Linked DNA regions of Homo sapiens. The protein of the gene in region 3 purifies or fractionates together with the protein of the main gene of each other region. This does not show direct contact. Each region holds a gene or a part of one and is shown on either strand. Other genes may lie near its edges. The genes, in order: ATL3, ARHGAP40 and HS3ST3B1.

Evidence for each region.
Region 1: the proteins of HS3ST3B1 (region 3) and ATL3 purify together in Homo sapiens (affinity purification with mass spectrometry; one large-scale study listed by BioGRID and IntAct). This does not show direct contact.
Region 2: the proteins of HS3ST3B1 (region 3) and ARHGAP40 purify together in Homo sapiens (affinity purification with mass spectrometry; one large-scale study listed by BioGRID and IntAct). This does not show direct contact.

Annotation. Positions count from the first base shown.
Region 1 is NC_000011.10:63,661,270-63,664,996, forward strand, and holds part of ATL3 (atlastin-3), read right to left. Parts: intron 1-3,727. UniProt on the Homo sapiens protein: Atlastin-3 (ATL3) is a membrane-anchored GTPase that mediates the GTP-dependent fusion of endoplasmic reticulum (ER) membranes, maintaining the continuous ER network. It facilitates the formation of three-way junctions where ER tubules intersect.
Region 2 is NC_000020.11:38,646,631-38,649,029, forward strand, and holds part of ARHGAP40 (rho GTPase-activating protein 40), read left to right. Parts: intron 1-326; coding exon 327-496; intron 497-2,012; coding exon 2,013-2,068; intron 2,069-2,399. UniProt on the Homo sapiens protein: GTPase activator for the Rho-type GTPases by converting them to an inactive GDP-bound state.
Region 3 is NC_000017.11:14,299,883-14,303,880, forward strand, and holds the start of HS3ST3B1 (heparan sulfate glucosamine 3-O-sulfotransferase 3B1), read left to right. Parts: upstream 1-1,198; 5' UTR 1,199-1,636; coding exon 1,637-2,190; intron 2,191-3,857; exon of another isoform or gene 3,858-3,998. UniProt on the Homo sapiens protein: Sulfotransferase that utilizes 3'-phospho-5'-adenylyl sulfate (PAPS) to catalyze the transfer of a sulfo group to an N-unsubstituted glucosamine linked to a 2-O-sulfo iduronic acid unit on heparan sulfate.

The DNA.
Region 1 (3,727 bases), on a different chromosome or scaffold from region 3:
TTGCCCAACAGGTCCTAGATATAAGCTCAAAAAGATCTTTAGGTGGTTGTATTTTGCATATCACTAGTAATAACTCAAAAAGTTTTAGAAGCTATTAATTCTATAGTTCAAAATTAAGCACTAACTATATTATACTTTCCTTACCAGAGTTTCCCTACCAAAGCACAAAGATAACTAATTAATTTGAAATTCAGGCCAGGCACAGCATCCACGCCTGTAATCCTAGCACTTAGAGAAGCTGAGATGGCAGGATTGCTTGAGGCCAGGAGTTCAAGACCAACTTGGCCAATATAGCGAGAGACTGTCTTAAAGAGAAGAGAAGAGAAGAGAAGGCAAGGGGCCGGGCGTGCTGGCTCACCTGCGCAATCCCAGCACTTTGGGAGGCCGAGGCGGGCAGATCACCTGAGGTTGTGAGTTCCAGACCAGCCTGACCAACATGGAGAAACCCCATCTCTACTAAAAATACAAAATTAGCCCGGTGTGGTGGCACGTGCTTGTAATCCCAGCTACTTAGGAGGCTGAGGCAGGAGAATCGCTTGAACCCAGTAGGTGGAGGTTGTGGTGAGCTGAGATTGCACCACTGCACTCCAGCCTGGGCAAAAGAGTGACACTCCGTCTCAAAAAAAAAAAGTGAAAAGAAAGCAAGAAGGAAATTCATTCAGGCTAGACATGGTGGCTCACACCTGTAATCCCAGCACTTTGGGGGCCAAGGCAGGCGTGTCACCTGAGGTCAGGAGTTCGAGACCACCCTGGTCCAACATGGTGAAACTCCATCTCTACTAAAAATACAAAAATTAGCCGGGCGTGGTGGTGGGTGCCTGTAATCCCAGCTACTCCAGAGGCTGAGGCAGGAGAATTACTTGAACCTGCACGGTGGAGGCTGCAGTGAGCCAAGACCGTGCCACTGCACTCCAGCCTAGATTTCAGAGCAAGACTCTATCTCAAAAAAAAAAAAAAAAAGAAAGAAAGAAAGAAATTCAGAGCCACTTAGTAGCTGTGGACTTATGGGAAGTTCACAAAAAACTACCAGTGGGGCGTAAGGAATGAATAAAGAACTATTTCCCTAAGAGTATGTGTCACTGGTATTAAAGATGTTTTTAGGTAGTTAAAAGGACATAGTAATTTTAATAATTATGCATGTTAATGTATACTTTAAAACAACAAATCTGTATTTTGATAAATTATTCTTTAGAAGGATGCTAAGTTTAAGAAGTCTGTTTATTTATTTAAGACAAGGTCTGGCTCTATAACTCAGGCTGGAGTGCAATGGCACAATCTTGCCTCACTGCAACCTCTGCCTCTCCGGCCCAAGTCATCCTCCCACCTCAGCCTCCCAAGTAGCTGGGACTACAGGCATTCATCACCACACCCAGCTAATTTTTGTATTTTTGGAGAGACAGTGTTTCACCATGTTGCCCAGGCCCGTCTTGAACTCCTGAGCTCAAATGATCCACTCGTCTCAACCTCCCAAAGTGTTGGGATTACAGCGACACCGTACCCAGCCAAGAAGTCAATTTAAAGTCGACTTAAGGAGACATATTAAGTAAAGCTTAGTACTGACAGGCAGACATGGCCAAAATCACAGCGACACAGTACCCAGCCAAGAAGTCCATTTAAAGTAGACTTAAGGAGACATAGTAAGTAAAGCTTAGTACTGACAGGCAGACATGGCCAAAATCACAAAGATGGTTCCAAAATGACTTTGTCTAACCAGCACTGAAGGCTACACGATCATGGCAGGCAAAGCAGACAAAACAGTTTGACTGCAAGACTCTCTCCCCTTCAAGCTACTGGAATTGCTGCTCACTTTTTACATTTATAGTATCAGATAGCAACAGAAGGGTTCTTCGCACTTTTTTTTTTTTTGGAGACAGTATTTTGCTCTGGCACACAGGCTGGAATGCAGTGGTGCAATCCTAGCTTACTGCAGCCTCAAACTCCTGGGTTCAAGCAATCCTCCCACCTCAGCCACCAGAGTAGCTGGCAGTACAGGTGTGTGCCACCATGCCTGGCTAATTTTTTAATTTTTTTGTAGAGATGGGGGTCTCATTATGTGGCCCACATTAGTCTCAAACTCCTGGGCTCTAGTGATCCTCTCACCTCAGCCTCCCAGAATGCTGGGATGATAGGCCACTGTGAATGTGGATGATAGCCACTGTGGCTGGCTTCTTCCTACTTTTTAAGTTTTTGCAGACTATTGGAAAACAAGTTATAAATATAGGTTAAATGTCATGCTATCATTGTAATCAATGTATACTAATACTTTTCTTTCCTGTTATTGCCTGGATTAAAAAGGAAACACTTCTGTGAATAATCTCTTAGGGTTCTTATTGCCCCAGCAGCAGGTAAATCCAAGATCCAAAGACCTTCAGTCTTTCATACAAAGAACTAATGAGAAGAATTTATTCAGACTTCAGGGATAAGCCACAGTGTTAAGTACTGTGTAGCACTCAAAGAAATACAAAACAAAGTCTTGATTGTGGCAGAGATGTCTGGTTGTTCCCCCAATATTAATTTCTCCCTCCTGCTATATAATAGATTTTTAGCTGGGCATACAACTGCCCAGAAGAAACACATTTCCAACCCAAATTTATAGCTAGGATATGACCAGGTGACTAAATTCTGAACAATGGGAAGTGACTGGAAATAACAGACACAACTTCCAGATCAGGCATTTTCCCCCTGCTTGCTGGCTAGATGTAAAAGTGGGAGTGAATCATCTTGGGCCAGGCATATGAGGGCAACACCCCAGGAATGCTGGAGAAACAAGAGAGGTCAGATTTCGTATAGCAGAACTGCCATATTGGTTCACTTCTGTGTGAAAGAAAAATAAATGTCTACCTTGCTTAAATCACTTATTTGGAGGCTCCATCAAATACAGCCAAGCCTAGCAGCCAACACAACAGTCTTCCAGGACTTTACAATTAAGTTCATCATACCAGATCTTTTTGTTTTATCTATTTCACTATTAAAAGTTTACTGAGCGAGGCCAGCCTCGGTGGCCCATGCCTGTAATCCCAGCACCTTGGGAGGCCGAGGCAGGCAGGTCACTTGAGGTCAGGAGTTCGAGACCACCCTGGCCAACATGGTGAAACCCCATCTCTACCAAAAATATAAAAAATTAGCTGGGCGTGGTGGTAGGCACCCGTAATCCCAGCTACTCGGGAGACTGAAGCAGGAGAATCGCTTGAACCCGGGAGGCAGAGGTTGCTGTGAGCCAACATTGCGCCACTGCACTCTAGCCTGGGCAACAGAGCGAAACTCTGTCTTTTAAAAAAAAGCGTACTGAGCAATGTGAATGTAATGAGCAATATCAATGTAATGACACACAGCACATACAATAAGCTATTGTTTTTTTGTTTTTTTTTTTTGAGACGGAGTCTCGCTCTGTTGCCCAGGCTGGAGTGCAGTGGCGCGATCTTGGCTCAGCGCAACCTCCGCCTCCCGGGTTCAAGCGACTCCCGAGCAGCTGGGACCACAGGCATGCACCTCCATGCCCGGCTAATTTTTGTATTTTTAGTAGATAGAAGGTTTCACCATATTGGCCAGGCTGGTCTCGAACTCCTAACCCTGTGATCCACCTGCCTCAGCCTCCCAAAGTGCTGGGATTACAGGCGTGAGCCACCGCACCCGGCCAATAAACTATTGTAAAATGAATGAATGACATGTACCATAATGTGGTTGAAGGCTACAACCCAAAGGATCCAAGTGGCATTGTCAGAGCAGT
Region 2 (2,399 bases), on a different chromosome or scaffold from region 3:
CACCGTGCACGATGTGTGGGTGATGGGTCTTTATACAAACCTACATGTCTGTGTTTGTGGGTGCGTTGCATGTACTCCTGCTGTGTGTACAAGTGCACCGACACAGGCATAGAAACACAAACATAGGCATAGAAACACAAACACACATCTGGAATGTGTATGTCTGTGATCTGTGCCCAAGTGTCCGGTATGCGTGTGTGTGTATCTTGTGATTTTCAGCGTGGGCATTTGCGTAAGTGCCATGTATGCGTGTTTATGCATCCACGTTGGAACTCCAGGCAAGCTGACTCTTATGTATATGGATCTTTCTCTCTCTCTCTCTGCAGACTCCCAAGGTGGCAAAGATCCAGGTGGTCTGGCCTATCAAGGACCCCTTGAAGGTGCCTCTCACCCCCAGCACCAAAGTGGCCCACGTCCTGAGGCAGTTCACAGAGCACCTCAGCCCTGGTTCCAAGGGTCAAGAAGACAGTGAGGACATGGACAGCCTCCTTCTACAGTAAGAGGCACCTCCTGGAGGCAGGAGCCTCTTCCCTGCAGGGAGGGCTCTGCACCCCAGAGCTGAAGGCCACCAGGGGGTTACACATACTGTTGGCCTGACCTGGCCTTCCCTTTCTGGGGTGGTCAGATGGGTTCTCCAATCTTAGAGAGTTTCTTGGCTCCAAGTAATAATCATGATGACCACCACTCACTCATTCACTTTAATAGGTATTTAATGAATGCCTACCACCAGGCACCATGTTTTTCTGTTGGTTTGTTTGTTTGTTTGTTTGTTTGTTTTGAGATGGAGTCTAGCTCTGTCACCCAGGCTGGAGTGCAGTGGCTCGATCTTGGCTCACTGCAACCTCCTTCTCCCAGGTTCAAGCGATTTTCCTGCCTCAGTCTCCCAAGTAGCTGGGATTACATGCACCTGCCACCATGCCTGGATAATTTTTTTGTATTTTGAGTAGAGACAGGGTTTTACTATGTTAGCCAGGCTGGTGTCAAACTCCTGACCTCAAGTGATCTGCCCACCTCAGCCTCTCAAAGCGCTGGGATTACAGGCGTGAGCCACCGCACCTGGCCCACCATGTATTAAGAGAATTATAGACTAGCCATGAAAAGAACAGACAGAGGCCCTGCTCTTAAGAGCTCACAGTCCTGAGGAAGACCTGGATATAAAGCAGATAGTCACGAATCAAAGATCAAGTTACAAACTGTATTAGGTTTCATAAGAAATGCAGGGAACAATGTGTCTGGAAGCCAAGGAAGCTGGTGTCATCTGGGAGCGAGGTGAGGCTTCCAGGCACAGAAAACTGCACAGTAAAGGTCCTGCAGCAAGGAGCAGAGCCTGGCCAAGGATCTGGAAGAAGGTCGGGGGCTGATGTGCAGCCATCATTCCTAGGGTACAGGAAACAGCCTGAGACCTCAAGAGCTTCCTTGTTGGCATTGGCACAAGGGACCCTCAGACTGTCATCTTCAGCAAGTATCTGATCCAGCTCCTCCTTGAACAGATGGGAGCACTAAGACTCAGAAAAGAGAAGGGACTTGCCTTAGGCCACATGGCAGAAAAGAGGCCATGGAATTGAACTCAGGATACCCATAATTATCATATAATAATTGTGATTCTTACATGATAGGCATCATTATCATATGTAATCATACAATGTCCATAATCCATCTTGACTCAAAATCTTCCCCTCACAGCAGGCTCCTGTCCCCATCTGTCACCACTCATTCCCTTGCCTTCGCAGTCTCCATTCTGATGCCCAGAAGAAAGGGGCCTCGCAGCGGGGTGCACCCCTGGCTGAGCCTCACCACGTGCCCTCCAGCTACCTCTCCCCAGCCCCTGGGTGCTGGACTCTGTCACTGGCTCCAGCTCTCTCAGGAGGGTCCTTATGCTGCTTCTCCCCAGCAGGACCAAAAATCAGTGAGGACTGCCCTTTCCAGGGCTGGGGGCCATGCACAGTTGTTGGTCTTGATGTTTCCAGAAGAAAAAGGCAGTAGTTTTTTTTTTCTCTCTCTCTGTTTTACAGCCATAGGTCCATGGAGTCAGCCAACATCCTCCTCTATGAAGTTGGAGGGAATATCAGTAAGTTCCACTGTGGGAAACAGGAACAGAGCCCGGGTCCCTGGGAGTTCTTCGACCTCAAAGGCTCACTGGGCCCTTCTGTGGGAGGCCAGAGTAGGCCTGCAGATGAGCCCTCCCTTCAGGTCTCTGTCTTCAATGAAACCAGGTGGAGTCCTGCTGTAAGGTTAAAGGTTAGCCTGTGCAAGTCTTAGGAGCCTATCCTGGAGTTTGGATTTTGCCTAGAGCTGGCCTCAGGCTTGCAGAGAGATGCAGAAGATTTGTTTAGTGTGAAGGTTCACAGTAGCACCAGTGAAACCGACGCCTCTGGGACACCCTAGCTGGGATGGACTTC
Region 3 (3,998 bases):
ACTTCCCCCAGCTAGCGGTTGCTGTTTCTTGGAAGACGCGTTTATCCGCCCCAGTCCCGGGTGGGTGGGTCATTTTGCCAAAGAAAATGTGGTTGGGGGTGACTTCGAGTAGACTTTCACTATTAAATAAGTGCACCTCAGTGATGGATTTGTTCCAAATTGATGTTTGACTTTTAAAAAAGCGGTGGTGAATGACAACACGAAACAATCAGTGTCACAGGTTAGCAAATCACACTGTCTCCTAAATTAAGGCAAATGTTGGCTTTATATCTATTCAGGAAAAAGGGGGAGATGGAAAGTTTTCTCAAACCTAACGTCTCCAACAAACTCATATCCAGATAAAACTTCCTACACATGACTCCCACGCACATGTTTCGACCAGGAAACTTTTGTTTACCAGACTCTCTTCCTGGTAATTTCTCCTGTCTCTTTTCCCCTCCCCAACCTACTTTCGGCAGTTTGGAAGGCTGGAGATTTTTGTTAAGGACACTTTACACTAATCTCAGTTAACCGGCAGGCCAAGCTAACCTGGCAAAGAATAAGAAGGAAAGACACACACACACACACACACACACACACACACACACACACACGACAGCGATTTCCAAACATCCTTTCTACTTAAACTTCCTAATCCCGTGCCTGTCCCAGAAGGGTCTCCGAATGAGTCCCCGGCGTGGGTTGGGGGGGGGGTTCCAGTGCCTAGTGCATCTCCTACCCTGCTCTCCCTCCTCCAACCGCCTCCCTACTCTGCAACACGTAAGCATCACGAAACCTCCTGCGAAACATCTGGATGGGGACTGGTGTCCCAACATCTGGGCAACTACCGCCAAGGCTGGCTTCTAGGGAACGAGTGCGGAAATGCGTGCGGGTGTGGGAGCGCACCACTCAGTAGGGTAGGACCTCTCCCAGCGCTAGGTCACTGCAGCATTCTTCCCACCATCTGCTCCTGTCACCAGCCCCTAACTCCGCCCCTTTGGGCCCGCCCCTTGTTCCGAAGCCAATAGCAACCCCTGACCGCCCTACACCGCCCAGAAGCCTTTCCACACCCCCTCGTCCTGGGAGCGGGTTGGCTGCTGAGCTCTCGGAGAAGCGCCTGTATTTGCATGGCGTTCGGGGTTTTTGGTAGGTAGAGCAGCCCGTCACTCTGGAAGGCCGGGACCGCCCACTCCACCTCGGTCCACAGCTCTCTTCCTGCGCAGTTCGCCTCTGCAGCCTCTGCGGGGAAGTGCCGGGGCTGCTCGAGGCTCAGTTCTTAGGACTGCAAGGAGGCAGCCCCGGCGTGCGGCGGTGCGCACAGTCTAGAGTGGCCAGGGCGCGAGAGTGCAACGTCCTCCTGGCCCCGAGCGCGTCGTCGCGCCCCGGGAGCAGACCCTCGCCCAGCAGTTACCGCCGTCCCGACTTTCCGTTCCAGTTGCAGCTCCTGCCGGGCAACATGTCAAGAGCCGCCGCCGCTACAGCTGCCGCCGCCACCTGGGGAAGAGCAGCAGCAGCAGCGGCGGCCGCGGGCACACGGGGGCAATAAACCGAGCCACCCGGGCGTCCAGCGTGCCGGGGAACCCTCTCTGCGCTCACTGCCCGGCGGGACCCACGCCATGTGCTGAGCCATGTCCCTGGCCGCGCCCGCGGGCAGCGCATGGGGCAGCGCCTGAGTGGCGGCAGATCTTGCCTCGATGTCCCCGGCCGGCTCCTACCGCAGCCGCCGCCGCCCCCGCCGCCGGTGAGGAGGAAGCTCGCGCTGCTCTTCGCCATGCTCTGCGTCTGGCTCTATATGTTCCTGTACTCGTGCGCCGGCTCCTGCGCCGCCGCGCCGGGGCTGCTGCTCCTGGGCTCTGGGTCCCGCGCCGCACACGACCCGCCAGCCCTGGCCACAGCTCCGGACGGGACGCCCCCCAGGCTGCCGTTCCGGGCGCCGCCAGCCACCCCACTGGCTTCAGGCAAGGAGATGGCCGAGGGCGCTGCGAGCCCGGAGGAGCAGAGTCCCGAGGTGCCGGACTCCCCAAGCCCCATCTCCAGCTTTTTCAGTGGGTCTGGGAGCAAGCAGCTGCCGCAGGCCATCATCATCGGCGTGAAGAAGGGCGGCACGCGGGCGCTGCTGGAGTTTCTGCGCGTGCACCCCGACGTGCGCGCCGTGGGCGCCGAGCCCCATTTCTTCGATCGCAGCTACGACAAGGGCCTCGCTTGGTACCGGTGAGTTTCCCTGCCAGGGGCAGGGTCTCCATCGTCGATTCAGACCCTGAGCTAAGGGAGACATGGCGTATGATAGGGAATTGGCAGGGTTACAGCTTCGGACCACCCGGGGTAGGGCAGGGAAACTACGGCAGATTGCGCAGCGCATCCTGTCCGGGTGCGGTGAGGGTTGCGCTCCGCTTGGTTCTCGTCACAACCCACAGAAAGTTCTCGCGGAGCACTGGTGCCCTTGAATTCATCAGGCGACCTCGCCGCAAAGAAGAAGGGCAGCGACTGAGACCGCCCTCAGCAAAGCGAGCCACCCTCTAACCATGGGGGTATCCGACTCGAATCGTATTTTATGACTCGTTTTAAATTTTTTCCTCCCGGAGCCCGAGACGCTGGGAATGTTCTGAGCCCCTTTGGTCGGTCTCCGCCCTCAAGGAACTTCTAGAGCAGCTTCTGCTTCCCAGATGGGGAGAGGGGGTGGGGGCCGCGGCGTCCCGGCGAGGCCGCAGAGTCTGTTAACTTTTTGTTACAGTCCGCCTGGTTACCGGAACCCCAAGGGTGTCAGACCCGCCTCGCTCGCGAGCCGCCTGGGCTCGGGAGGGTGAGCCGGGCGGGTGGCCCGGCGCCTCCGCCTGGCGGGCGGGCGGCGCGCGGAGCGTGGAGCTGTGCTGGTCCCTGTCGGGCAAAGGCGCGCACTGCAACCGGCTGGAGCGGCGCGAGGCTTTGAAGGCGTCCGGGCCTCCGGGCACCGCCGCCCGTTTCCGCCTCCCTGCCCTCGGTGCTGGGATAGGGAAAGCAAGGACGCGTGTCTCCGCGGGGCTTTTACACGTCCGGAGCAAAGAATATTCGGGGCCCATTGATTGAGAAATGAGGGTTGCTTCGAGGTCGCGGCTTCCGGAAATTCTGTTCTCGAGTCGGGTTGCGGGTCAGGTTCCAAAGGGACAGTGGCCCCGGGGTCACAATCACTACCTCTGCCCACTGCTTTCCGCAGCTGCTGGTCTTTGGGGTGAGCTGTTGGGTTGCCCGAGCTTCGGGTAAGGCGCGAGTGGGCAGGAGGTCTAGATTTCGGCCTCCGATAACTGTCTTCGACTAGGGGCCCAGGTAACGACCCCCACATTTTCGTTGGGGTCTCCACCCGTAACCCCAGCCAGCACGACATTCAGACACCCCTCCAGGCCCAATTAGCTTCACAGACGCTCAAGACTTGGGAAAACAAAAGAGGAGAAGATAACTGAACCCCTCTCCCTGTGCCCACCCCACTGTCGGGACCTGGGTGGGTTGGAGAATAAAAGAGGGCTGACCCCGCGGATTAAAACGGCTCCCTTCCCAGCCTCGTCCTACCCCTTCCCCTTTGTCCTTAATGGTTTTTTATTATTGTCAGGAGTTGCCCAAGTCTCGAGGTTTAGCCAACCGTGACAGTCATCTTTCCCACCGTTCCCGGGCTGTGACCCATTCTCGGGACACTGGTGGATAAGAATGGGGTCTCTGGAGTCCGACGCCTGGATTCACGTCCTGGCTAGTCGCGTGAACCTTGGTGCTCTCATCTGTGCAGTGGGAATAATGCAGGTTCTGGGCAGGGATGGGAAGAGTGAATGCGCTGGTACGGTAAGGTGCCTCGCAGGCACGTGAGGGCCTCTCTAATCGTTAGCTATTGTCACCGATTGTATTGTTATGACTTCTACCACCACCACTCCCCCTCCTCCTGGGATGGTGATTCCAGGGCCAGGCGGCAGGCTATAACTAGCGCCCTTCCAGGTGGAACCCGCCAGAGCCCCGAGGCAGCCTAGGATTTTCTGAGATCAGACACACTTGGGCCGGGT